Homo sapiens: one gene and its partners. The protein of the gene in region 1 purifies or fractionates together with the protein of each later gene. This does not show direct contact. Each region holds a gene or a part of one and is shown in the gene's direction. Other genes may lie near its edges. The genes, in order: DNM3, RPE, ALMS1, FNBP1, KIF2C, RAPH1 and TSC22D2.

Evidence for each region.
Region 2: the proteins of DNM3 (region 1) and RPE fractionate together in Homo sapiens (co-fractionation; one large-scale study listed by BioGRID). This does not show direct contact.
Region 3: the proteins of DNM3 (region 1) and ALMS1 purify together in Homo sapiens (affinity purification with mass spectrometry; 3 studies listed by BioGRID and IntAct, with this or other methods). This does not show direct contact.
Region 4: the proteins of DNM3 (region 1) and FNBP1 purify together in Homo sapiens (pull-down; one study listed by IntAct). This does not show direct contact.
Region 5: the proteins of DNM3 (region 1) and KIF2C purify together in Homo sapiens (affinity purification with mass spectrometry; 3 studies listed by BioGRID and IntAct, with this or other methods). This does not show direct contact.
Region 6: the proteins of DNM3 (region 1) and RAPH1 purify together in Homo sapiens (affinity purification with mass spectrometry; 3 studies listed by BioGRID and IntAct, with this or other methods). This does not show direct contact.
Region 7: the proteins of DNM3 (region 1) and TSC22D2 purify together in Homo sapiens (affinity purification with mass spectrometry; one large-scale study listed by BioGRID and IntAct). This does not show direct contact.

The regions. Positions count from the first base shown.
Region 1 is NC_000001.11:172,383,498-172,386,997, forward strand, and holds part of DNM3 (dynamin-3), read left to right. Parts: intron 1-3,500. UniProt on the Homo sapiens protein: Microtubule-associated force-producing protein involved in producing microtubule bundles and able to bind and hydrolyze GTP. Most probably involved in vesicular trafficking processes, in particular endocytosis.
Region 2 is NC_000002.12:210,001,168-210,005,437, forward strand, and holds the start of RPE (ribulose-phosphate 3-epimerase), read left to right. Parts: upstream 1-1,470; 5' UTR 1,471-1,494; coding exon 1,495-1,616; intron 1,617-2,270; exon of another isoform or gene 2,271-2,301; intron 2,302-4,270. UniProt on the Homo sapiens protein: Catalyzes the reversible epimerization of D-ribulose 5-phosphate to D-xylulose 5-phosphate.
Region 3 is NC_000002.12:73,448,336-73,451,835, forward strand, and holds part of ALMS1 (centrosome-associated protein ALMS1), read left to right. Parts: coding exon 1-3,500. UniProt on the Homo sapiens protein: Involved in PCM1-dependent intracellular transport. Required, directly or indirectly, for the localization of NCAPD2 to the proximal ends of centrioles.
Region 4 is NC_000009.12:129,921,190-129,924,689, reverse strand, and holds part of FNBP1 (formin-binding protein 1), read left to right. Parts: intron 1-663; coding exon 664-846; intron 847-3,500. UniProt on the Homo sapiens protein: May act as a link between RND2 signaling and regulation of the actin cytoskeleton. Required to coordinate membrane tubulation with reorganization of the actin cytoskeleton during the late stage of clathrin-mediated endocytosis.
Region 5 is NC_000001.11:44,749,837-44,753,336, forward strand, and holds part of KIF2C (kinesin-like protein KIF2C), read left to right. Parts: intron 1-605; coding exon 606-728; intron 729-3,295; coding exon 3,296-3,418; intron 3,419-3,500. UniProt on the Homo sapiens protein: In complex with KIF18B, constitutes the major microtubule plus-end depolymerizing activity in mitotic cells. Regulates the turnover of microtubules at the kinetochore and functions in chromosome segregation during mitosis.
Region 6 is NC_000002.12:203,483,302-203,486,801, reverse strand, and holds part of RAPH1 (ras-associated and pleckstrin homology domains-containing protein 1), read left to right. Parts: intron 1-3,500. UniProt on the Homo sapiens protein: Mediator of localized membrane signals. Implicated in the regulation of lamellipodial dynamics. Negatively regulates cell adhesion.
Region 7 is NC_000003.12:150,414,798-150,418,297, forward strand, and holds part of TSC22D2 (TSC22 domain family protein 2), read left to right. Parts: intron 1-3,500. UniProt on the Homo sapiens protein: Reduces the level of nuclear PKM isoform M2 which results in repression of cyclin CCND1 transcription and reduced cell growth.

The DNA.
Region 1 (3,500 bases):
TTTTAATACATGTATTGTGTGAATGAGAGGCATCACCGTGTTCCGTACTGTGACCCTCCAATTCTAGAAACAAAGAGATTTTAAGGAAATGGTCTCCTTGGTAACTGAACTGTAGGAAACTGTAGGAAAACCCTAGAAATGTCTCTTCTATTTGTGAAGGGTTTAAAATGGTCTCAGTCATAGAAAAGAAGGTTTAAGATCCAAACATATTACGGGTTGCTAGAGAAGGGTTAAAGTAAGAGAGGAAAACATGTGGAACATTTTTAATGACCTCACATTCCTTTACACTGAGCAGAGCGACATGGTGCAGTAATGCCTGTTTATCTAGCCTAGAGAGTTTGAGCTGGAATGAGGTTTCATGTGTGAGAACTTTTACAAACCATACAGAGATGTATAGGTTATAAGGTGTTATAATTAAAAACATAAATATTATTTCAGATCTCAAATTTAAGTATAATCACTTTGTTATGTTAGGTGAAGTATTTTCTAAATGCTATCATCTAAAAGGGATTCACTTGACCCCTGATTGTCATGCAGAATTCTTGATTTAAATATTTGTACCAGATTTAAATGTCTGTATACCACTGGCATACAGACTTCCCAGAAAGTCCCTGAAGTGTCTGGAAACTCCCGGAAGTCCCCCTACCTTCATTCCAAACTCCAATTTTAGTGTCACAAAGCTAGGTTAGCAGAAGGAGAGAAGAGTATCTCTAAAATTTTGCTTAAATGCAAAATAAAAAATGTTAACCTCTATGCCCTATTTAACTATGTCGCTTGATACCTGTACTGTTGCAACAGCTGTCTATTGTTCTCCTGTCTCGATGTACCTAATGCCAATGTAGCCTATAGACAGTAAAAATCACAGCATTTTTTGGAAGGGGCACTAACTGTGTGCTGGGCATCATGCTAGACAACTTGTATTCATTCCTTCCTTTAATCCTCACAATACTTGAGGTAGCTCTACCCTCATTTCACAGATGAGGAACCTGAGACTCAAACAGTTTACATTATTTGCCCAAGAACAGTAAGTGTTAGAACTAGAACTTAAATCCACAGCCTATGCTCTGAATCCACTGTATTGCACAGTAGGCAAGTTCCAGTGTGTCATAATTGCTGTGGAAGATTCAAGGCACATCTTTGGTCAGAATGCTGAAACAGGCCCTTATTTTGCTTCATGGTTTGACAGTTGATTCTTAATTCAGCTCTGCTTTAAATCTATTCTTGGAAGAATCTTCTTTTAAATTGTATTTAATAGATTCTAAGTGATATTCCAGTAATATGTAAAGTTTCTAAAGAGCTTAACCCAACCAATGGTCAATGCCAGGAAAATTGTCTGGTTTTGAGTTTTGAATTGCACCATGCATCCAACTGCATATACATACCCAACAGTGGGAGATTTGTGCAAATATCCATGATTCCCTGCATACCTGCAAGTACATTTAGAAGTGAATGCGTCTGTAAGGAAGGGAATGAAATATTCCTAAAGCCAAATTTGCTGCCTTCCCTCTAAATCTGACTTTCTTTTCTGATGTTTGAGTTTCTATTCTCCTACTCATCCAAATGTCAATGCTTGAGATGTCTTTGGTTGTTCCTTTCTTCCTTGCCCTTCACATCCCAACAGCACCAAGTTCAGTTCATTATTCCCTTATAATGTCATTGTATGTATCCATTTTTTATACTACTGCGTTATTAAATGAAACATTTACCATCTTATGAACGATCTACAATAGCCTTCTAACAGATTTCTTTATTTTCACTACCACCCTTGCAAAGTCTTTTTCAATGTTAGCCAGATTAATTTTCCTAAAACTCTCTTTTATTGTTTCACTTACTTGCTTAAACGCTTTCGCTGGCCCCTCATTGCCAAGCAAATAAAGTTCAAACACTTTTCCTTGGCATTCAAGGCCTTCGCATCTGCCTCAGGATTCCTGGCCAAACTTACCTTCCACAACTATCGTGCATAAACCTCTACTCCACAGAGGGTTTCCTAAATACATCTTGTGTATTAGATTACTTTCACCTTTGAATCACTCTTGGTTTACAAAATATGTACAGAAAACACTTTATTTCACCACAATAAACCTTTGATTTAGCTGAATTTTTTGATTAGTAGAATTATTTACATGTTTTGATGCCTTTAAAACATAATGAAGCTATGTGTTTTAGGTTCTTGTCATCTCTGAATTACAAATTTAACCATATCCTAGAAATTTGGAGCATCTGACAGCTGTTCTGTTATCTGCCTGATTTTTTAACAATTAAATATATACTTGCGTTTGGCCTTTCTTAAAGATATTCATGAGTCTAGATAAGAGTTAGCTTTCTCATGTAACAGAGAAACTGAAAAATTCAAACGGCTTATTTTTACTAGGCTTAAGTTAATTGCTGCACTACTGTAAAATAATGATACTTAAACAAAAATTTACTTTTTTAAGCACTCAATCACAGTGAGATAATGGGGTAAGGGAATGGGCACCGGACTTCAAGTCAGAAGGTTATGGATTCAACTGAATGCTGTGTGACCTAGCACAAGATACTTAAATTCTTGGAACTTGTTTCTGTATCTATAAAACTGGAATACTAATACATGTTTCTTCAGTGTGTGATAAGAATTGTCATATAACTTATGAAGCCACTTGGTATATACCATACTTCATCGATTCTCACATTCACTTCTTTTTATTTAATATTTCTGAAATGAAGATGCATCTTATACTCAATGGCATCTTGACATCCTGTCAAAGTTTGATTGATGGTATTTTTTTTTTGTCTGAATAGTCAGCACATATGATAGTAGTGTTTCTTAAAATCACTGGTGTCTTAGAGTTGATGAGATACAGTAGCTGGCGTTCCCACTCTCAGTGTTGTGCACCATATTCATCCTCTCCATTTTCATCCTGCAACAAAATGCCCCTCCCCCTGAGACTCCCACATAGTGTTCATACTTTAGTTTGTTTTTATATATTAGCTAACTATGCAACCTCATGTCAGTCCCCATCACTGTTAACTAACTTCTATTGTAAACTTCTGGAAAACAGAGTGCATCTCTTTCACTTGTTTATAAATCAACCTGCATAGTTATATAAGATTCTGTATTTAATAAATATTCACTTACTGGTGCTAATTTCACTTTTGAGACGACACTGAAACTTGGCATCTCAATAATTTTCCAGTGATTTTGGTAAAAGCTAGGGAAAGGACTGCGAATGCCAAGGAATGGAAAACGTGTGATTACATAGGTTTCTTCACATCACTGTTTTCTGTTGAAAATACTGCTTCTTACCTCATAGTACCTTCCCTCTTCTATAAGCCAAACAGCTCCAGACAATATTGTGAAATGCTCACAAAGCCAGCAGGCCCTGTTCTGGTGATGGCTGGGTTTGGCCTTCTTCTACTCATCTCTATCATCCTTCAGTGTGGACAGCCAAAAGACAGAGGGAAACTGTTACTGTCACCAGTACTGGGGATAGAGACAAAACAAAAGTAAACAGACGCTTGGT
Region 2 (4,270 bases), on another chromosome or scaffold:
TATTCTGACCCCTTAAGGATTGCTCTTGCTAAGTCCATTTATCCCCGCCAAGTGGTTTTACTTCTGTCTCTTTTCCTGACCCTAGGCACATTTAGCATCAGGATACTCATCCATTTCTGAACTGTGTGTGAACAGCACACAAACCTATCACAATTTGTGAATGAGCATTGGAGAGGTGTAGGGGCCAAGGGAAAACTTTCCCTTCACCCTCCAAAGGTTTGCTGAAAATCACTGACAGAAAGAAGATTAACAGGAGAAAAGGCATAAAAACTTATTTGATTATAGTTTTACCTGACACAGGAGCCTTCAGAATGAAGACCCAAAGGTACAGGGGTGATTACCCATTTTTATACTTAGGTTCAACAAAGTATAGACAGCCATGTAGAAATACGATTGGACAAAATAGGCGATCTAATGCTAATAGACTGACCTGGCCTTGGCCAGTCTAGTTTAGATTCCTGGCCTCTCTGTGCAGCATTCCCTCCTCCTGGATATGGGATAGAACCTTCTCTAGAAGAGGAGTTTTATAACCTACAGTTGAGATGGGTCAAATAATTTATGGCCAGTTTTTACACAGAAAGGTGGAGGAAAGTTAGAGTAATGCTTTTGGGTTTTGTGTCTGGCTTCAGGGAAAGGGGGTTCCGGTTTCAATGACTCTTCTTAGGGAAGATGGGCTCCAGTTTCTATGACCTGCCTCCTAGAATGAGACTGAGAAGAGAGCAGGGCAGGAAGTCAGAGAAACACTGTTGCGTCTGAGGCCTTCACTTTGGGCTATCATTTTCTGAGCCTCAACAGAGGGAAAAACAAAAAAGGTAAGGAGGAACTGCAAAGGCAGAAAAAGAGGGTAATATAATAATAACTACCATTTTGTACTGAGCACCAGGCATCCTGCTGGGCGCATTACCTGGCTTCACTCATTTAATACAACCCTAAAGCTGGGCACTGTCTTTACAGATGAGAAAACCGAAGTTAAGAAGTGATTTGCCAGGTCACCCAGCTAGTATCTGGCAGAGCCAGGGTTCCTCCAGCTCAAAAGAAGAGCTCTAGGAGAAATACGAGGAAGAAAGGTTTTTAATTGTTGTTTTAAAGGGCCAGCATAGGCGCTGGAGAGGAAAGAAAGGCATATGCAAAGGGTGGAGAAACAAAAAGTGATGTTAAGTCAAGAGCCGAGGAGAGGGAACTGCAGGAGAAGCAAAGTGAAAAAAGGTTAAGAAACGCCTTGAGTACTGCGAGGACGTTAAGATCCAAACAGCACAAGAAGGAAGGTCAAAATCAGGTGTACGAGGCCCGTGTGCCCCGCCCCGCCCCAGGCGGACGGCTGACAGCGCCCCACCCCAGGAGGAGGCGGGACTTCCTCACCGCAGAGTGGCTGCTTCCGGTAGAATCCGGAAGCCTGTACGGAGAAGGGGCGGGGCCAAAACTGCGCGCCCAATCGGGGTGACGCTCTAGCCTTGCCGGGGACTCGTGGGTAACTTGCTTTTGGGAGCCAGCGGTATGGCGTCGGGCTGCAAGATTGGCCCGTCCATCCTCAACAGCGACCTGGCCAATTTAGGGGCCGAGTGCCTCCGGATGCTAGACTCTGGGGCCGATTATCTGCACCTGGACGTAATGGACGGGTAACTCCTCCGGGCTCCGGTCGGGCTTGCCGCGCGGCGGGGCGGATCAGTGCACCTTTATTGACTGCTTGTTGGATGTACCGCGTCCCTGTACCACCGAGCGCCTCACTCTGAACGCGATGCTAGAAGGGGTGTGGGGTAGGAGCCCTGGAGGCTCTAGCAGGAGCAGAACCGACGCGGTATCCTGGGTTGCGGCCGGGTCCCAAACCTCAGTTCCTCCCCTCCCCCCACGTAACGTGTGGTCTTCCATCACTTAGGACCCGGAAGCGACCTAAATCTTTAGGACATTTCTTCACTTTCAGCTAGAGAAACTGAGGCCCAAGGGGAGAAGCATGACTTGCCCAAGCTCATATAGCTAGTTAGTGGCAAAGCTGGGGAAACAGACTTCTCTAACGATTTAAGTTGGCACCTGCGGTTAGGTTCCCGAGTTCTGCCACTTGCTGGGTTACCTTGGACAAGCCACTAACCTCATTGAGCTTCAGTTTCATAATTTGAAAAATGGAACTACTAACAGAACCTACCGCTTAGGCATCTTGGAAGATGAAATGAGCGAGTACATGAGAAGTTTACAGTGCCTGGCGTATATTAAGTTCTCTATAATTGTTAATTACATCATTATTACAATTCTGATTTTCCTGTCTATTTTCTCTTCAGGCACCCTGCTCTTCAGGGAGGTCAGTTTTTTGTAAGTAATTTTTAAGCACCGTAGTTACAGCACATAATATTGTTTGGAGTCAGGATATTAGTTTCTGAAGTTGGTTACAGAATGAGGAAACAACCCCAGAGAAAGCAGTAAGACTCCCTCAAGATTACAGAAGATTGTGACAGACTTGCAACTTGGCTCTTCCTAGGTTTGCCAAGTAGTTCTCTGAGCCCCACTGTTAACTGACTATAAAAATCATAAATACCATTATCTTGAGTGGGGATGGAAAAATAAATTTATTTTAAATAGGTAAAAACCCTGTGTTCCCTCATTCAGTTTGCAAATTGGTGTTATTTTCTAAAGGTGATGATTTCCTTTTCTTTTTAATGTTAATCTGGCTTTGAAGAGTTTTATCTTCCATTGCTCTATGTGGTTAAATGTATTGTTTCTCTTTGGCATTTTACCCAGTTACCTTAGGAGTCCACCCAACTGATAATGACAAAACTTTGACCATAGAGTACTAAAAATAATAGGCCAAATGTGTAAAAAGTTTAGTAAATATTACCTCTCACAAAGGTTGGCTTTTAATTGGCCATTATATGTAATTATACTTATATACTTTATTTTTGACATCTTTGCTTGAAAGCCCTAAACTGTCACAGGTAATAATACCCTGAGTGTCTACCTCAAAGGTAAGTAGCTACATTTTTGTGCCTGAGAAAATACCTAGAGGGTCACAGGATGGAACAGCTATGTGTATATTTGTGAGTCTATTTGAGCAATTTGGTTTTAATTAAACTATGTTTGAGTAAGTTAATGGTTGGGGAAAGTAATTGTTTCGGTTCACCAGTCAGGATTATTAATGATAACCATAGTAGCAATGTTTATGAGCACTTGACTGTTTCTGTTCTGGAGTTTTTTTGTGAATTAACTCAAACAACCGTTTGAAATTGGTGGTGTTATTACCACCAGCATTTGACAGCGAGGAATTGGGCACAGAGAGGTTAAGTCATCTGCCAGTGGTCTCATAACTAGGAAATGGTGGAGCCAGGGTTGGAAGCAATGCAACAGCTTGTGTTGTCTCAAATGAAATGCTTTCTGTGGTTCCTAGGCTTACAGGGAATGACTAAGACATTGTTTGGCCTCAAAAAAGCAACTAATAATTTGTGTATTTATTTCTGTTAACTGTATACTTATTTTTGTTAACTTATTTCATGTCTCTCCTGCTACCCTATAAGCTTCCTGAAAGCCAAGTTTATCTTCTTTTTGCTCACCTATATATTCTTTGCTGGAAAAGCACCATAAGGTGCTTAGTTATTGTTGGCCGAATGAATGAATAGCTTAATCATAATAGGAGAAGTCTCTCAGAAGTCACTTTTGTCCCCTTGCAGCTCTATGGCAGACTGAGCTCAGTAAGGCAAAGTATTTACCATGGATCAGAGTTTTGGGAACAAAAAAATAAAAAATGAAGTATTTGTTTTTTATTGATTCCTCTTCCCCTTTGCCAGGAGATACTTTGGTTTGGAAAAACTGAATTCTGCATACACAATTTTAAAATTATTTCCCTTTTAATCTTCTCTACTTTCTGAGTTAAGAGCTGTTTCTATTCCCCTTTTGCAAAGGAGGAAACCAGTGTAGGGAGATTCAGCTTCTTCCCTGATGTCTCACCAGATTCAGCAGAGCCTGGCAGAGTTGGTGCCAGTGCCCCTACGTGATGTGCTGTGGTGTCTACTAGGCTAGGGCTATGAAAGTGGGCTGTGGACTCCTTTTTGAAATGTGGCCAGCCACAATGTCCCTTCCCTCCCAGGACTGCCTTCGTGTTTTTTTTTTCCTGGCCCCTTTTAAAAATCTCATCCAACATTACACTTTGGATGTGCTTATTGTTTTCTAGTCTCCTCCCCACTAAGACCTCCAATTTCTCCCCTGATTACAACTGAATTTCTTCATTTAGAAAGTCAGAAACCAGTCTGGGGAATACTGTGGAAGGTGGAGCACTAGCATGACTGGATAT
Region 3 (3,500 bases), on another chromosome or scaffold:
TGCTCCTGGACTAGCTGACCAGACAACTGGCATGTCAACTCTAACCTCTACTTCCTACTCACATAGAGAGAAGCCTGGTACTTTTTACCAACAAGAGTTACCAGAGAGTAACTTAACCGAAGAGCCTTTGGAAGTTTCAGCTGCTCCTGGCCCAGTGGAGCAGAAGACGGGAATACCTACAGTATCCTCTACATCCCACTCACATGTAGAGGACCTCCTCTTTTTCTATCGACAGACCTTGCCAGATGGTCATCTAACTGATCAGGCTCTGAAAGTCTCAGCTGTGTCTGGACCAGCTGACCAGAAGACTGGGACAGCAACAGTACTCTCTACTCCCCACTCACATAGAGAGAAGCCTGGTATTTTTTACCAACAAGAGTTCGCAGACAGTCATCAAACTGAAGAGACTCTTACTAAAGTTTCAGCCACTCCTGGACCAGCTGACCAGAAGACTGAGATACCAGCAGTACAGTCTAGTTCTTACTCACAAAGAGAAAAGCCTAGTATTTTGTACCCACAGGACTTAGCAGACAGTCATCTACCTGAAGAGGGTCTGAAAGTTTCAGCTGTTGCTGGACCAGCTGACCAGAAGACTGGCCTACCAACAGTACCCTCTAGTGCATACTCACACAGAGAGAAGCTCCTTGTTTTCTACCAACAGGCCTTGCTGGACAGCCATCTACCCGAAGAGGCTCTGAAAGTTTCAGCTGTTTCTGGACCAGCTGACGGAAAGACTGGGACACCAGCTGTAACCTCTACTTCCTCTGCGTCCTCTTCACTTGGAGAAAAGCCCAGTGCTTTCTATCAGCAGACCTTACCCAATAGTCATCTAACTGAAGAGGCTCTGAAAGTATCAATTGTTCCTGGACCAGGTGATCAGAAGACTGGGATACCCTCAGCACCATCTAGTTTCTACTCACACAGAGAGAAGCCCATTATTTTTTCCCAGCAGACCCTGCCAGACTTTCTTTTCCCTGAAGAAGCTCTGAAGGTTTCAGCTGTTTCTGTATTGGCTGCCCAGAAGACTGGGACACCAACAGTGTCCTCTAATTCTCACTCACATAGCGAGAAATCTAGTGTTTTCTACCAGCAAGAGTTGCCAGACAGTGATCTACCTAGAGAATCTCTGAAAATGTCTGCTATTCCTGGACTGACTGACCAGAAGACTGTCCCAACACCAACAGTACCTTCAGGTTCCTTCTCACATAGAGAGAAGCCCAGTATTTTCTATCAACAGGAGTGGCCAGATAGTTATGCAACTGAAAAGGCTCTGAAAGTTTCAACTGGCCCTGGACCAGCTGACCAGAAGACTGAGATACCAGCAGTACAGTCTAGTTCTTACCCACAGAGGGAGAAGCCTAGTGTTTTGTACCCACAGGTGTTATCAGACAGTCATCTACCTGAAGAGAGTCTGAAAGTTTCAGCCTTCCCTGGACCAGCTGACCAGATGACTGACACACCAGCAGTACCGTCTACTTTCTACTCACAAAGAGAGAAGCCTGGTATTTTCTACCAACAGACCTTGCCAGAGAGTCATCTGCCTAAAGAGGCTCTGAAAATTTCAGTAGCTCCTGGACTAGCAGACCAGAAGACTGGCACACCAACTGTAACCTCAACTTCCTACTCACAACATAGAGAAAAGCCCAGCATTTTCCACCAGCAGGCCTTGCCAGGTACTCATATACCTGAAGAGGCTCAGAAAGTTTCAGCTGTTACTGGACCAGGTAACCAGAAGACTTGGATACCAAGAGTACTTTCTACCTTCTACTCACAAAGAGAGAAACCTGGTATTTTCTATCAACAGACCTTGCCAGGTAGTCACATACCTGAAGAGGCACAGAAAGTTTCACCTGTTCTTGGACCAGCTGACCAGAAGACTGGGACACCAACTCCAACCTCTGCTTCTTACTCACACACAGAGAAGCCTGGTATTTTCTACCAACAGGTCTTGCCAGATAATCATCCAACTGAAGAGGCTCTGAAAATTTCAGTTGCCTCTGAACCAGTTGACCAGACAACTGGCACACCAGCTGTAACCTCTACTTCCTACTCACAATATAGAGAGAAGCCCAGCATTTTCTACCAACAGTCGTTGCCAAGTAGTCATCTAACTGAAGAGGCTAAGAATGTTTCAGCGGTTCCTGGACCAGCTGACCAGAAGACTGTGATACCAATTTTACCCTCTACTTTCTACTCACACACAGAGAAGCCTGGTGTTTTCTACCAACAGGTCTTGCCACATAGTCATCCAACTGAAGAGGCTCTGAAAATTTCAGTTGCCTCTGAACCAGTTGACCAGACAACTGGCACACCAACTGTAACCTCTACTTCTTACTCACAACATACAGAGAAGCCGAGTATTTTCTACCAACAGTCGTTGCCAGGTAGTCATCTAACTGAAGAGGCTAAGAACGTTTCAGCGGTTCCTGGACCAGGTGACCGGAAGACTGGGATACCAACTTTACCCTCTACTTTCTACTCACACACAGAGAAGCCTGGTAGTTTCTACCAACAGGTCTTGCCACATAGTCATCTACCTGAAGAGGCTTTGGAAGTTTCAGTTGCTCCTGGACCAGTTGACCAGACGATTGGCACACCAACTGTAACCTCCCCTTCCAGCTCATTTGGAGAGAAGCCCATTGTTATCTACAAACAGGCCTTTCCAGAGGGTCATCTACCTGAAGAGTCTCTGAAAGTTTCAGTTGCTCCTGGACCAGTTGGCCAGACAACTGGCGCACCAACTATAACCTCTCCTTCCTACTCACAACATAGAGCAAAGTCTGGCAGTTTCTACCAACTGGCATTGCTAGGTAGTCAAATACCTGAAGAGGCTCTCAGAGTTTCTTCTGCTCCTGGACCAGCTGACCAGACAACTGGCATACCAACCATAACCTCTACTTCCTACTCATTTGGAGAGAAGCCGATTGTTAACTACAAACAGGCCTTTCCAGATGGTCATCTACCTGAAGAGGCTCTGAAAGTTTCCATTGTTTCTGGACCTACTGAAAAAAAGACTGACATACCAGCAGGACCTTTAGGTTCCAGTGCACTTGGAGAGAAGCCCATTACTTTCTACCGGCAGGCTCTGCTAGACAGTCCTCTAAATAAAGAGGTTGTGAAAGTTTCAGCTGCTCCTGGACCAGCTGACCAGAAGACTGAGACATTACCAGTACATTCTACTAGCTACTCAAATAGGGGGAAGCCTGTCATTTTCTACCAGCAGACCCTATCAGACAGTCATTTACCTGAAGAAGCTCTGAAAGTTCCACCTGTTCCTGGACCAGATGCCCAGAAGACTGAGACACCATCAGTATCCTCTAGTTTATACTCATATAGAGAGAAGCCCATTGTCTTCTACCAACAGGCCCTGCCAGACAGTGAGCTAACTCAAGAAGCTCTGAAAGTTTCAGCTGTTCCTCAACCAGCTGACCAGAAGACTGGGTTATCTACTGTAACTTCCTCTTTCTATTCACATACAGAGAAGCCTAATATTTCTTACC
Region 4 (3,500 bases), on another chromosome or scaffold:
CCTTCCTCTCCTAGACTGCTGGTTACCTTGGCTGGGAGAGAGGATGTAGTGGGACATTCCTGTAACACTTTATCCGCACATCTACTGGAAATCGTTACCATGTTAATAACTTGGTTTTGAATTCATGTTAACATGTGTACCCATGAACATTTTTCATTTTCTTTTCATAGTGCGATACATAGGTGCATGACAGCATTAACCTGGGGACGTAGAATATGATCAAGGCAGCATTACTGCTTTAACTTTAGAATGACTTACTATTTATTAATTTAAACAGACTGCTGTTTCCACAACCTTAGCATTGAAGGTCTTTCATTTTCTCCCATCAAGCTATGTTAGTTTAGGTAATGTAGAAATATTTACCCTCTGGCTTAAGCTGGTTTAGAGTAACTAACTAGAGCTATAGTTTGCATGGGAAAGTCTGCACGAGCTTCTTGTCAGATATTTCTTGCTCTTCTGTCGCATTACTTACTAAACCTCCCAACTCTCATCATATTCTTCATTTAACCACCTCCTACATGTTTTCTTTTGGACCATGGCCTAAAATTTAATTGTTTGTGTTTTACTTGCGTTGGATTTCAAATATTATTTGATGCTTATTTTTGTTTTGTGTCTTCTTGTTTCTGATTTTTACTCTGTCACGGCTCCATCTCTTACATGTAGCTTATGTCCCTTTTAACATCCCCCCATCAGCCTCCCCCTCCCCCTCCTGCCTCTGCCTCACCCTCTGCTGTTCCCAACGGCCCCCAGTCTCCCAAGCAGCAAAAGGAACCCCTCTCCCATCGCTTCAACGAGTTCATGACCTCCAAACCCAAAATCCACTGCTTCAGGAGCCTAAAGCGTGGGGTAAGTTCTGCTCCGGAATCCTGTCTCTCTGGCGTGCTTTGGTTGCATGTTTGGTTCTGCATAACTAATTTTGTTTGTGAATGAATCCATTGTGTTTTCCCATAACATATAAAAAAGTTAAAAAAAAAAAAACAAAAACCATTATAGCTAGAAAGAAAAGCCAGAAAGAGGAAGAAAGAAAGAAGGAAGCATGGTGGTTGGAAGAAAGGAGAAAACCAGACAGCCCAGAGTTCTTTCTATTTGTTTCTTTCTTTTTTTTTTTTTTCCAGACAGAGTCTCGCTCTGTCACCAGGCTGGAGTGCAGTGGCGTGATCTCGGCTCCCTGCAACCTCCACCTCCCGGGTTTAAGCGATTCTCCTGCCTCGGCCTCCTGATTAGCTGTGATTACAGGCATATGCCACCACGCCCAGCTACTTTTTATATTTTTAGTAGAGACAGCATTTCATCATGTTGGCCAGGATGGTCTCGATCTCTTGACCTTGTGATCCGCCCGCCTCGGCCTTACAAAGTGCTGGGATTACAGGTGTGAGCCACTGCGCCCGGCCTTTTTCTTTTCGTTTCTAGTACATTTTGGAAGGACTTTACCCCTCTTCCTCTTTAAAGCATCCAAGTCATGCATTTTCTACCTTAATTTTACCAAAAAAAACCACTTAGATTTCATTTCTAAAACTAGCGACCTGAGACTGGGCGTGATAGTTCACATCTGTAATCCTAGCACTTTAGGAGGCCAAGGCAGGAGGATTGCTTGAGCTCAGGAGTTCAAAACCAGCTTGGACACCATAGTGAGACCCCCATCTCTTAAAAAAATATATAAAAATTAATAGGACAAGCGCAGTGTCTCATGCCTGTAATCCTGGCACTTTGGAAGGCCGAGGCAGGAAGATTACTTGAGCTCAGGAGTTCAAGACCAGCCAGTACAACATAGTCAAACCCCATCTCTAAAAAAAAATAATAAATAATAAAAACATAAAACTAGCAACCTATGAGATGAGGAATTGGAAGTCACTGTGTAAGTCAGAAAATATTGCCTTAATAACTACTGAAGCAATGTGAGTGTAATGAAGATACTTGCCTGAGCTATGCCTCAGGGTCGAAAGGAGAAGAGTCATAAGTCACAGTGGTTTCATTCGCTATTTTAGTGAGATTATATAAGATGTTGATAAAATATCTGTTGATTGGAAGGGGCCTGATGCAGAATTTCTCTTTAAAGGATGAAACAATAAAAGCAGCTGACACTTACTGAGCACTTATTGTGTGCAAAGCTCTGTTCTGTGTGCTCATTTACTTTTTTCCAGCCACCCTATGAAGCCCAGGTAGTACTCATATTTCCTTATTTTACTGTAAGGAAATTGAGGCATAAAAAGGTGAAGGTGGGAAGATACAGAGCCGGGATTTAGATCCGGGGAGTCTGATTACAGAGTCTGAGATTCTGTGACATCCACATTCAGGGAGAAACTACTATATTGACTCGTAAGTGGTTGTTATTAAGATTGAAGTCCGCTGTCCTCATTAAGATTGATGTGCGCTTACATCATAGAGATAATGGAATTGATGCAGCCATCCAATGTAGATACCAGTTTCGTTTACAGAGAAAGATTGGCATAAAGCAATGTGTAGATTCCCAAATCATTCTCAATGGCCAGTCTAGTCTAAGCCTTCCCAAAATATCTTTTATAATGAATATAATGAGTAAACAGATCTTTAGACTGGGCCCAGTGGCCCACGCCTGTAATCCCAGCAGCGTTAACATATCCAGTAAGGTTTTCTCCTTTTTTTTTTTTTTAAATCCTACCCTGTGGGAGTTGCAATACAGTTGTAGTGGAATGCTTTCTTGTACAAACATAAGTTTTACTTTTCCCTTCTCCTGGACTCTCCAGTCAACTGACGGTTGGGTTACTTCTTTCCAAATAGTACCTGGTAGTGCCCCAAAGCCAGAGGTGGATGCCATCCTTTCTTGAGTGTCAACTGACACATTGGCCTGGGAAAAGATTCTAAACTACAACTAATTAACTAGAGGAGAGATGTCCTTCTTAGACTTGGAATCAACAGCTGGTTACTAGTAAAAGAATAACAGTAGTCATTGTTAACCTGACAATCGTATTTCCACAAAAACAACTCTGTGTAAAAAAGAGGCCTGGCACAGTGGCTCATGCCCGTAATCCCAGCACTTTGGGAGGCCGAGGAGGGCGGATCACCTGAGGTCAGGAGTTCGAGACCAGCCTGACCAACATGGTGAAACCCCGTCTGTACTAAAAATACAAAAATTAGCCGGGCATGGTTAATGTCCGGCTAATTACAGGCGGGTGCCTGTAATCCCAGCTACTCGGGAAACTGAGGCAGGAGAATCGCTTGGACCTGGGAAGTGGAGGTTGCAGTGAGCCAAGATCACGCTATTGCACTCCAGCCTGGACGACAGAGCAAGACTCTGTCTCAAAAAAGAAAAAAAAAAAACCCATGAAAAAATAGCCAGGCATGGTGGCATGTGCCTGTAGTCCTAGCGGAGGCTGGGATGAGAGGATTGCTGGAGCCCAGCCAGGGCAACAGAGTGAGACCCTTTCTCCAAAAAAAAAAAAAGTAAAGAATGTAAATTCATAATTGATAACAAGTTTATTATCAATGCTTTTTAAAAATAGGGGACAAAACAATATTTCCTC
Region 5 (3,500 bases), about 130 Mb from region 1:
GGGAGGCCGAGGCGGGTGGATCACAAGGTCAAGAGATTGAGACCATGCTGGCCAACATGGTGAAACCCCGTCTGTACTAAAAAAAAAATACAAAAATTAGCTGGGTCTGGTGGTGCACACCTGTAGTTCCAGCTACTTGGGAGGCTGAGGCAGGAGAATTGCTTGAACCCAGGAGGTGGAGGTTGCAGTGAGCCGAGATCGCGCCACTGCACACCAGCCTGGGCAACAAGAGCGAAACTCCTCAAAAAAAAAAAAAAAAAAAAGATTCATAATACTTTTTCTCAAGGACTTAGATTAGGTCTCTCTCTCTCCAGAAATGTTTTCAGGATAGCTATAGGTTCCTGTACTTACTCAAGACAGCCGCTCTTTGTGGGAGATATCCTTGCCCTCAGGAGCTCCTAGATTTGCACAATGTGGACAAAGAGGTTTTGGGGTTACTGGTACTTGGTCTTTCTAATTTTTCCTTTCTAAGGAATATGGGAAGTTGGCGAGCCCCTTTCCTGGTAGCTGGGACCTATTTCACCTTGTACAGAAACTTGGAGGTTTGCCCCTGACCACCCTCGAGATCGTGCAGCACTGACTGGCTACTGCTCTCGGTTCTCCAGGTCTTCGAAGCCGCTCCACTCGCATGTCCACTGTCTCAGAGCTTCGCATCACGGCTCAGGAGAATGACATGGAGGTGGAGCTGCCTGCAGCTGCAAACTCCCGCAAGCAGTTTTCAGTTCCTCGTGAGTAACGAATGTGCCCCCAACCACCATGTTTGAGGCCCTGGAGCACATTGCTTGGTCCCTGTGCTAGAATATCCTGAGATTCATCCATTCCCCCAGCTTCAGAACTGGTCTGCTCCTGCCCTACCAACACGGCTTTCTTATTTGGAAATCATCTCTTTTTTAAAAAAACTTAATTGAAACATTACACACACATAAACACAGACATGAACACATAGCATTGAGTATTTAGTTCTGTGAATTTTTGTAAACTGAACACACTTATGTAACTAACATGATCAGAGCATTACCAGTACTTCAAATCGCCTGAGTTCAAGCCCTGTTTGTCACATGGGGGCATGTTTTCCTGTGGCCATGGAATCAGTCTTTTGGAAGAGGTGAAAGACTAGGCAGAAGCCCTCTGAGATAGTTGAGGAGTCTAAGGTCTAAGTACACAGAGCATTGAGTATATAGTTCAGTGAATTTTCATAAACAGAACACACTCATGTAACTAACATGATCAGAGCATTAACAGAACTTCAAAAGTCCCTGTTGGGCATATTTGCAGCTCCTAATTCCCCCAAGGGTACCCATAATCCTGACTTCTAATAGCATTAATTAGCTTTTTTTCTTTCTGTATTTTATTATTTATTTATTTATTTATTTATTGAGACAGAGTCTCACTCTTGTCACCCAGGCTGGAGTGCAATGGCGTGGTCTTGGCTTACTGCAACTTCCGCCTCCTAGGTTCAACCAGTTCTCCCACCTCAGCCTCCTGGGTAGCTGGGATTACAGGCATGTGCCACCACGCCCGGCTAATTTTTGTATTTTTAGTAGGGGTGGGGTATCGCCATGTTGGCCAGGCTGGTCTTGAACTCCTGGCCTCAAGTGATCCGCCCACCTCGGCTTCCCAAAGTTCTGGGATTACAGGCGTGAGCCACCTCGCCCAGCCCTCTTTTTGTACTTTTTTTTTTTTTTTTTTGAGACGGAATTTTGCTCTTGTTGCCCAGGCTGGAGGGCAATGACGCTATCTTGGCTAACCTCAATCTCTGCCTCCCGGGTTCAATTGATTCTTCTGCCTCAGCCTCCCGAGTAGGTGAGATTACAGGCATGTGCTACCATGCCAGGCTAATTTTGTCTTTTTAGTAGAGATGGGGTTTCTCCATGTTGGTCAGGCTGGTCTCGAACTCCTGACCTCATGTGATCTGCCCGCCTTGGCCTCTCAAAAGTTCTGGGATTACAGGCGTGAGCTACTGCACCCGGCCCTCTTTTTATACCTTTTTTTTTTTTTTTTTTGAGATGGAGTCTCGCTGTGTCGCCCAGGCTGGAGTGCTGTGGTGTGATCTCAGCTCACTGCAACCTCTGCCTCCCCTGTTCAAGCCATTCTCTTGGCTCAGCCTCCCGAGTAGCTAGGACTACAGGTGCACACCACCACACCTGGCTAATTTTTGTATTTTTAGTAGAGACAGGGTTTCACCATATTGGCCAGGCTGATCTCAAACTCCTGACCTCGTGATCCACCCACCTCGGCCTCCCAAGGTCCTGGGATTACAGGCTTGAGCCACTGCGCCCGGCCTATATTAAATTGAATTTTTTTTTTTTTTTTTTTTTTTGAGACAGAGTCTCGCTCTGTCGCCCAGGCTGGAGTGCAGTGCTGCGATCTCGGCTCACTGCAAGCTCTGCCTCCCGGGTTCATGCCATTCTCCCTCAGCCTGCAAGTAGCTGGGACTACAGCCGCCTGCCACCGCGCCCGGCTAATTTTTTGTATTTTTAGTAGAGACGGGGTTTCACTCTGTTAGCCAGGATGGTCTCGATCTCCTGACTTCGTGATCCGCCCGCCTCGGCCTCCCAAAGTGCTGGGATTACAGGCGTGAGCCACCGTGCCCGGCTATAAATTGAATTTTAAGATTTTTTAAGTGAGTCAGATGAGGTGTGGAAAATTAGTAAATATAAATAAAAATTTGTAATGTGAATTATTTGTCAGTCTTTAATAGATTATATAAATTAGATGCAAATTGTGTAAGACACACAACCATTATACTTTACATATATCAAATTCAGCTCTAATACGATGAAGGTAAATGAATGGGTCATGACCACGTATGGGAAGTAATGAGGTGTTGTGGATTGGACCTTTCTGTATTGAATCAATCTGGTTAGTTATTGCCCCAGTTCCCTGTCACCCTAGATTTTCAGTCTTTGCTCCTGTTAACCACCTGGGTTCCTGAGGCTTGAGAGAAGTCAGAAAGGCCTGGCTTTTCTCCCTAAGACCAGACCTGGCCTGGCCTGAGAACCCATGCTTGGGTGAAGTCTAAAGAGTTCACGCTCTCAGAGGCTTTTCCCTTCATGTCAAAGCCCATACTGAACTGTTCACATACCCTTTAAGATATTTTGACCCCAGGAGCCAGCCCTTGCAGAAAGGGTGAGAGTGTGGGCTGAGGTGAAGGGAAAAGCACAAGCTCTGCACATACTGTAAGCCTTACCGAGCAGGCAGGTCGCTCTCCCGGCCCATAACCAGGGCCATGGGCTCAGGTGAGATGCCTGTGGTATACTTGCCTGCTTCTCCAGTGACTCTTGTTCCCCTACAGCTGCCCCCACTAGGCCTTCCTGCCCTGCAGTGGCTGAAATACCATTGAGGATGGTCAGCGAGGAGATGGAAGAGCAAGTCCATTCCATCCGAGGCAGCTCTTCTGCAAACCCTGTGAACTCAGGTAGACACACTGAGCTGTCTGCTGTTCTGCTTCTAGTGAGGCACAGATAGTTTACATCCTGTCCTAAACCTGGCCTACCTTG
Region 6 (3,500 bases), on another chromosome or scaffold:
TTTTTTCCTAGGTCTAGTCTGTTCTGATTCAAATAAAGTAAACTGAGGCAAGCTTAATATATCCTGAACTCATGTATCAAATTGTCTTTAAGTGCAAATACAGTTTTAAAAATATTTTAGTTTTTCATGCATGGCGTTAAATAGTTCTATGAGATATGTTACGGAAAACTATCCTCTACTCACATACACATCATATTCTGCTTCCAGAGGTAAGCAATTTTTGCTCATTTAGCTGATTCTTAGGGACTTTACCTCTTTATCATTAAGTCTACATACACATTGCCATTTCTTGATTTTCTTTTTAGTGGTATGTATTACCTATTGACTTCTCACTCTACTCCAGAAGATGGAGGGTATAGCTGTCTATATACAGCTTCTTCTCACTTCTCCCTTCCTGTTTTTCCATTCTCCAAATATATTTTGATTGAGCTCATATTCAGTGTTTATATTAAAATGACTATATACTTGAAATTTACTGCTAACCTCCATATACTCTTGTGACTACATCCCCTTTCTGGAATATCATTTTACTTTTACTGGAATGAATATATGTTTAAAAATATTTAATTTTCTATATGGTGATCACTGTTTCAACTTCAGACTTTCTCCCAGTTGATTAAATCTCTCTGGTTCAAGCCAAATTAGCGTTCCATTAATTGCATCTTCTTAAAATTCTATTTATTTCTTTTCTTTCTTTTTTTTTTTTTTGTAGTCTTCAGGATTATCCTTAGGTTTTTTTTCCTAGGCTGGTGAGCTTCTCTGGAGAAGATTCTTCCAGTCTTCTATGCTGGCTGCCAGTGTTTTAGTAGCCCATTTGGGAAAGAAGGGTTGGAACATGAGGATGGTCCCCATTGTTCCAGTCTATGAACTTTCATCAAATCCTTCTAGGTCAGGGTTTCTCAGCTATCAGCACTATTGACATTTGGGCTAGATAGTTTTGTGAGTGGCTGTCCCATGCACTGTAGGATGTTTAGCAGCATCCCTGGCCTGTACACACTAGATGTCAGTAGTACACATTTACCTTCTTCAGTTGTGACAACTAAAAACGTCCGTAGACATTGTTACATGTTGCTTGTAGGACAAAATCCACCCCCAATTGAGAATCACCACTGCTCTAGGTAGAGAGGGTTAACAGTAGGCCTGAGTCCTTTTCTTCGTGGAAAATGACCTTGGGTTTTCCTTCTCCTGGCATTCTTTTCCTGGACACATACTGGATTAAGAATTAAATATAGAATATCTCCAGGTAATATTGTTTATTGTGAAACTGACCCCTGTTGGTGAGTGTATATGGACCAGGAAGACTGTCCATGAATGAATAAATTAGCCTATGAAAAGACATAGACCTTGACTTCGTGGTGTGCAGTGTAACTCTTTTTTTTTTTTTTTTTTTTGAGACAGAGTCTCACTCTGTTGTCCAGGCTGTAATGCAGTGGCGCAATCTCAGCTCACTGCAACCTCCGCCTCCCAGGTTCACATGGTTCTCATGCCTCAGCCTCCCGAGTAGCAGGGATTACAAGCACATGCCACCACGCCTGGCTAATTTTTGTATTTCTTTTTTTTAGTGGAGACAGGGTTTCGCCATGTTGGCCAGGCTGGTCTCGAACTCCTGACCTCAAGTGATCCACCTGCCTCGGCCTCCCAAAGTGCTGGGATTACACTGTGGGAGCCACTGCACCTGGCCAGCAGTGTAACTCTTATAAATGAGCATGAACGTGTTCTTTAAGGGGCCCTGGAACTTAACCTCATTGGCTGTTAAAAGGTACTGCTGGTTCCCATGGAGCATGAAGTTTCCCTAAGCCAGGGTGTTTTCTGCACTTACCATGTGGTCTCTTTCCCTTACAATGAGCTATTTATGGGCCCAAAAAGGGCCTGTGGTGAGCTGTATGGACTCCCTCAGAAGATGGCATGTCTCTTTTTATTTATTCAGAACTGAGTGAATCTGGCTTCAAGCTATGGTCTGTTGGGTCTTGTCAGCGAATGTTAATCTGTACCTGAGACCACTGCTGGTGGGTGAGTGAGTAAAAGAGGGAATCTGAGAATTAGCTGCTTTCTTAAATGTGTTTTCAACCATTCTTCCTGCTTTTAGTCGCACCATCACCTGTCTACTCTTGCTTCTGAGGACTTCTGAGGTTACACGATATAAATTGAGTGCTCCTCTGCTTTTCTCCAGTGCTGGCCCAGCATTCAGCTTCTCTTGGATTTGCTAAATTGGTTACCACTCAGCCATATGCTTTTTTTCCACATCTTCCCACCCCCATTTTAATCCCTGTAAAACAATGCTTCACAACTTGGGCTACTTTGTCCTGCTGGGTATATGCAACATTTTTGGTTGTCCATCAAGGGCGTGTGCTACTACTGGCATCTAGTGGGTAGAGGCCAGAGGTGCTGCTAAACATCCTACAGTGCACAGGACAGCCCACATGAAGGATAATTATCTGGCCCAAAATAGAGCCAAGGTTGAGAAACCACATTTTAAATCGTGTGGCACCTGTTAGTCACGATCAGCAAGGTGGCAGTTATAGTACGTTGTATGAAGTCCTTCTGTTGAAAGTTTCTAATAAAGATCAAGAAAGTACCAGCATCAAATCTTCTTAGATTTAAGGAAATATAGGTATCTTTGGCCAGTCCCTCTCTCCTGAACTCCAGGTGCATATATTCCATCTCTAATCAATATCTCTATTTGGATGTCTAATTGTGTATTATATTTCTCCAGAGAGATAGAACCAATAGGATATGAGTGGGGATTTATTATGGAAATTAGCCCACACCATTATGAAGGCTGAGAAGTCATGTGACAGGCTGTCTGCAAGCTGGAGACCCTAGGATGGTGGTAGTGTGACTTAGTCCAAGTCAAAAAGCCTCGGAACCAGGAAAGCCCATGGTATAATTATCAGTCCTAGGCTGAAGGCCTGGGTACCCAAGGGAGGCTGCTGGTATAAGGCCTGCAGTACAAAGACTGGAGAGCCTGGAGTTCTGATATCCAAGAGTAGGAGCAGAGTGTCCCACCTCTAGGAAGGATAGGGAGGAAATCACCTTTTCTCTGCCTTTTTTGTTCTATCTGGGGCCCTCAGTCAATTGGATAGTGCCTACCCACAATGAGGATGGATCTTCCCCACTCAGTCCTGGTTCACACACCATCTCCTCTGGAAACACTCTCACAGACATACCCAGATGCTTTACCAGTTCTCTAGGTATTCCTTAATCCAATGAAGTTGATACCTAAAATTAACCATCATAAATAGATTGCTCAAATTTAACTGGTCTAAACCTAAAGTCCTGCTCTTTCTCTTCAAACTTATTTCTCCCACTGTCTTCTCTATCTCAAATAATGGATATTCCATCCGTCTAGTTCATCAAGCAAACTCCTTGGAGTCTTTATCTACTTATTTTCTTTCTACCTCCCTTTCAATCCAGCAGCAAATTCTGTTGGCCTTATCTTCAGAATATGTCTAGAATGTGATCACTTCTCACCGCCTTCACTGCCACCAAGCCAATATCAT
Region 7 (3,500 bases), on another chromosome or scaffold:
TTCGACCTCTGTTGTATGAAAGTCTCACTGAATTGAAGTCTCTAAAGATGGAAATTTCTTACTTGAATCTCTGTTTCTTGGAAGCTGACATTTATCTGTTAAATTGTGAAGGTAATTTTGCTCTTGTAGGTTTACAGTTGATGTCTGAATCACATACTAGATACTATCCTATGCCTATCTACACGTTTAAGAGTGTTCTTACTGAGGAGTTAGTAGTAAAAATGTAAATTCGTATATATGTGTCATTATTGTTTAGCATAAAAACTGATACTGATGTATTCATCAGGGATTACTGATGGATACCACATGGATTACTAAAACATACTTTATTCATAAACGTGGCTTGAAATAAAAGAAATGACAGATTTCCAAAAAGGCTTACGATTTTCCAAACTACCCGAAATTCCTAAACCATGAGCTATATCTGTAGGAGTGTGGCCTTTTATATTCACAGTGACACATACTGTATAAAATTTTATGTGCACTAAATCATATAGGCCAAACATTGGTAAATTTTTTTAGAAAACATGATGGCTTATATGTGTGTGAATAATACAGATTTCCAGCTGACTATTTTAGTAACACTTGTTTTTTCTTTTTAGGAGATCACAACCCCTGAACTAAATCACCTTTATGAGAAGTCATTTTATATAGGACTGGTGGTAGGGGTATATATGTCCTCTACTTCCTGAGAATAAATATAATGCCAATTCATTTGTTATTTAAGAATCCTGGGCCAGGAGCGGTAGCTCATGCCTTGTAATCCTGGCACTTTGAGAGACCAAGGTCAGAGGATTGCTTGATGCCAGGAGTTGGAGACCAGCCTGGGCAACATAGCGAGGCTTTGTCTCTACAAAACATTTAAAAATTAGCCAGGTCTGGAGGCCAACACCTATAGTCTTAGCTACTTGGGGAGGCTGTAGGAGGAGGATTGCTTGAGCCCAGGAGCTGGAGGCTACAGTGAGCTATATTATAATATTGCACTGAAGCCTGGGCCACACAGCAAGGACCTGTCTGTAAAAAGAAAAAAAATAATTCTGATAGCACTAATTTGGAAATAGTGAAATATGGTACTGGATCTATGAATCTGGTACTTCCTAATTAGGAATGGGAGTCTATCTTTCTCTGCACCAGAAAAGATCAGAAGCAGTTATGAACAAATAGCAGCCCCACCAATCAAGTAGTAGAGAAACCCAAATAAATCTGTTTCCTAATAAAGGAATGGTAGTTAGGAAAGTATAAAAGGAATCTGACCTTCCTTTCCTAAAATGGCAGGAGTTGGGGAAGGGGAAGTGTAGAATGATAGCAGATAATCAAAATGGAAGAAAGTACAGTGGAGTGGCATGAAATATAGTCTCAAAAGAAATAGGAACACTTGTGAATACTGAGGAATGGTGTTCTAATTCTTTCTTTGAAGAATTGTTTTAGTCCAGTGTGTATTTCCTTTTCTGAAGATTCTGTTTATTTCTTAATTGCATTACTCGTTAAATACTTAAAGTATGAGGAAGGAGAGGCCTTACAAAAGCAGGTCTGTCTGGTTAAACATAGCCTGAATGATATTCCGTAAGTAATTCCTTAAATTGGAAAAGCAGATTTTTGGTAAGAAATATTAATCATATTTAAGGAGTATGTGTAGCAAAACTCCTAAATTAGAATAAATTATTTAAGTGTATGGTTTTTCTTTATACTAAACCAGTGGGCTTGTGATTTGAGGCTACTGTTTTCGATGGTATTGTATTGAGTCCACAGAGAATATGTATACCTGAATCATTGGTATAATGTCTTTCCCACAGCAATTCTTGAACATATCAAATTACTCGATATTTGTTATATTCTTAATCTGGCATTGCTTAGGGCAAAAACTGGGTGTCCCTCATAAAAAGGTAGGAACAGTAGCCAGTTTGCACCATTCCTATACATTATTCCATGACTTTAGGAAGTATACTTTGAGGTATACTCTTCAGATTTGGTTTAATAATATTAAAGGTATATTGATGGATTGTTTCCTGTATGAAAGTATTGCATGATTTCTGCTCTTAAATCAGGTGAATTAAATTTCATCTGGATTGCTTATCTCAAATTTAAAGCCTCAAATCAGACTTAAATAATTAGTATTTAGTATTTAGTTTGATTCCTTTGTACCCAAGCTAATTTTTGTTTAAAAAGAAAAAGTGCTTCCATCCTTTTAAGTAGTACATTTATTTGTGATGTTAGTGAAAGTTCTGCAGGTAACTGAGTTAATTTTATTAGTGTTTGCCTGGGACATATACCTATTATTAGGGTAGGCAGGACAAATAAGTAAAGTCTAAATGTTAAATTACTTAAAGCTTCTTTTCCCATAAGCCTTTCCTAAAATTTGTCTAAAGAATATTGCTTTGTAGAAGATGGAGTTTGTGATTAATGTGTCAATTATTGTAAATAATGATGGCATAGTTTTAAATGTTAGTTTTAGGCTGTTCATCTTATTACACAAGTATATAATTTAATCTGAATAAAGGATTCCCAAAGGTAAGTGTAAAGCCTCTAGTTTCTAAAGTAGAGTTAGTATTTAGTTTTTATCAAGTGGTTTTATATGTTAAAGCAAAACAAATCTTTGCTTGGCATACCGTCTACCTAGTCTTTGAAGACAAAACAAAGGAGGGAGGAGCTGTTTTGATCAAATAAAACCAATAGCGTGTTTAATTATGTGTTAACATATGTGAATGACCATTACAGAGACAGTAGAGTCAGACATACCCGGGCTAAAATCTAACTGCTACATTTGACTTTGAGCTAGTTGGTGTAGATGCCTTGTTTCCTCTTATGAAAAATGGGGATTGTACCTACCTGGGAGAGTTTTAAGGAATTAAATGATGTGTGCAAGTAATTTGAACAGTCTGTAACATAATATATGTGGCAAACGTGTATCACAGAAATGTTAATATTTCAGTGTCCAAACTGCTCTCCCAGATCACCCCTTTACATGTTATAAATCATACCAAGAATCTTCCATTTTAATATGAAAGCGTAATTGTATGGTATGGATGTAGTCAGAAAAAAGGAGATGATGTTTTAGTCTAGACGAGTCATGATGTTGTAAGAAGTATAGGGAATTGTGTTCCAGTCCTGGCTCTTCTATCATTTAGCTGGTTTCTTTGGTCAAGTCATTTCACTTGTCTGTTTTTCTTTTTTGAGACTTTGTCAAATTTTAAGATTCCTTCTAGCCTTATGTATATGAGACCATACATTCAAGTGTGCTTCATGAGAGAACTGCAAACTTAAACTTTCTTCTTTTTACCCCTTTCCTGCCACTTGACTATTGTGTGGCAATAAATGAAGTTTGTAAATACTCATTAAGTAGGTTGATTGCCCAAGAAAACATTTAAAACAGCTTATCAGTCATTCAGCTTTCATGATGCTCTGTGAGTAGTGAGCACTGGAATACAAATATGAGACTATGCTGCCCTCCTAGATCTCAGGCATTTTCATCATCATGAAAATGATGATCAGATGTATACTTT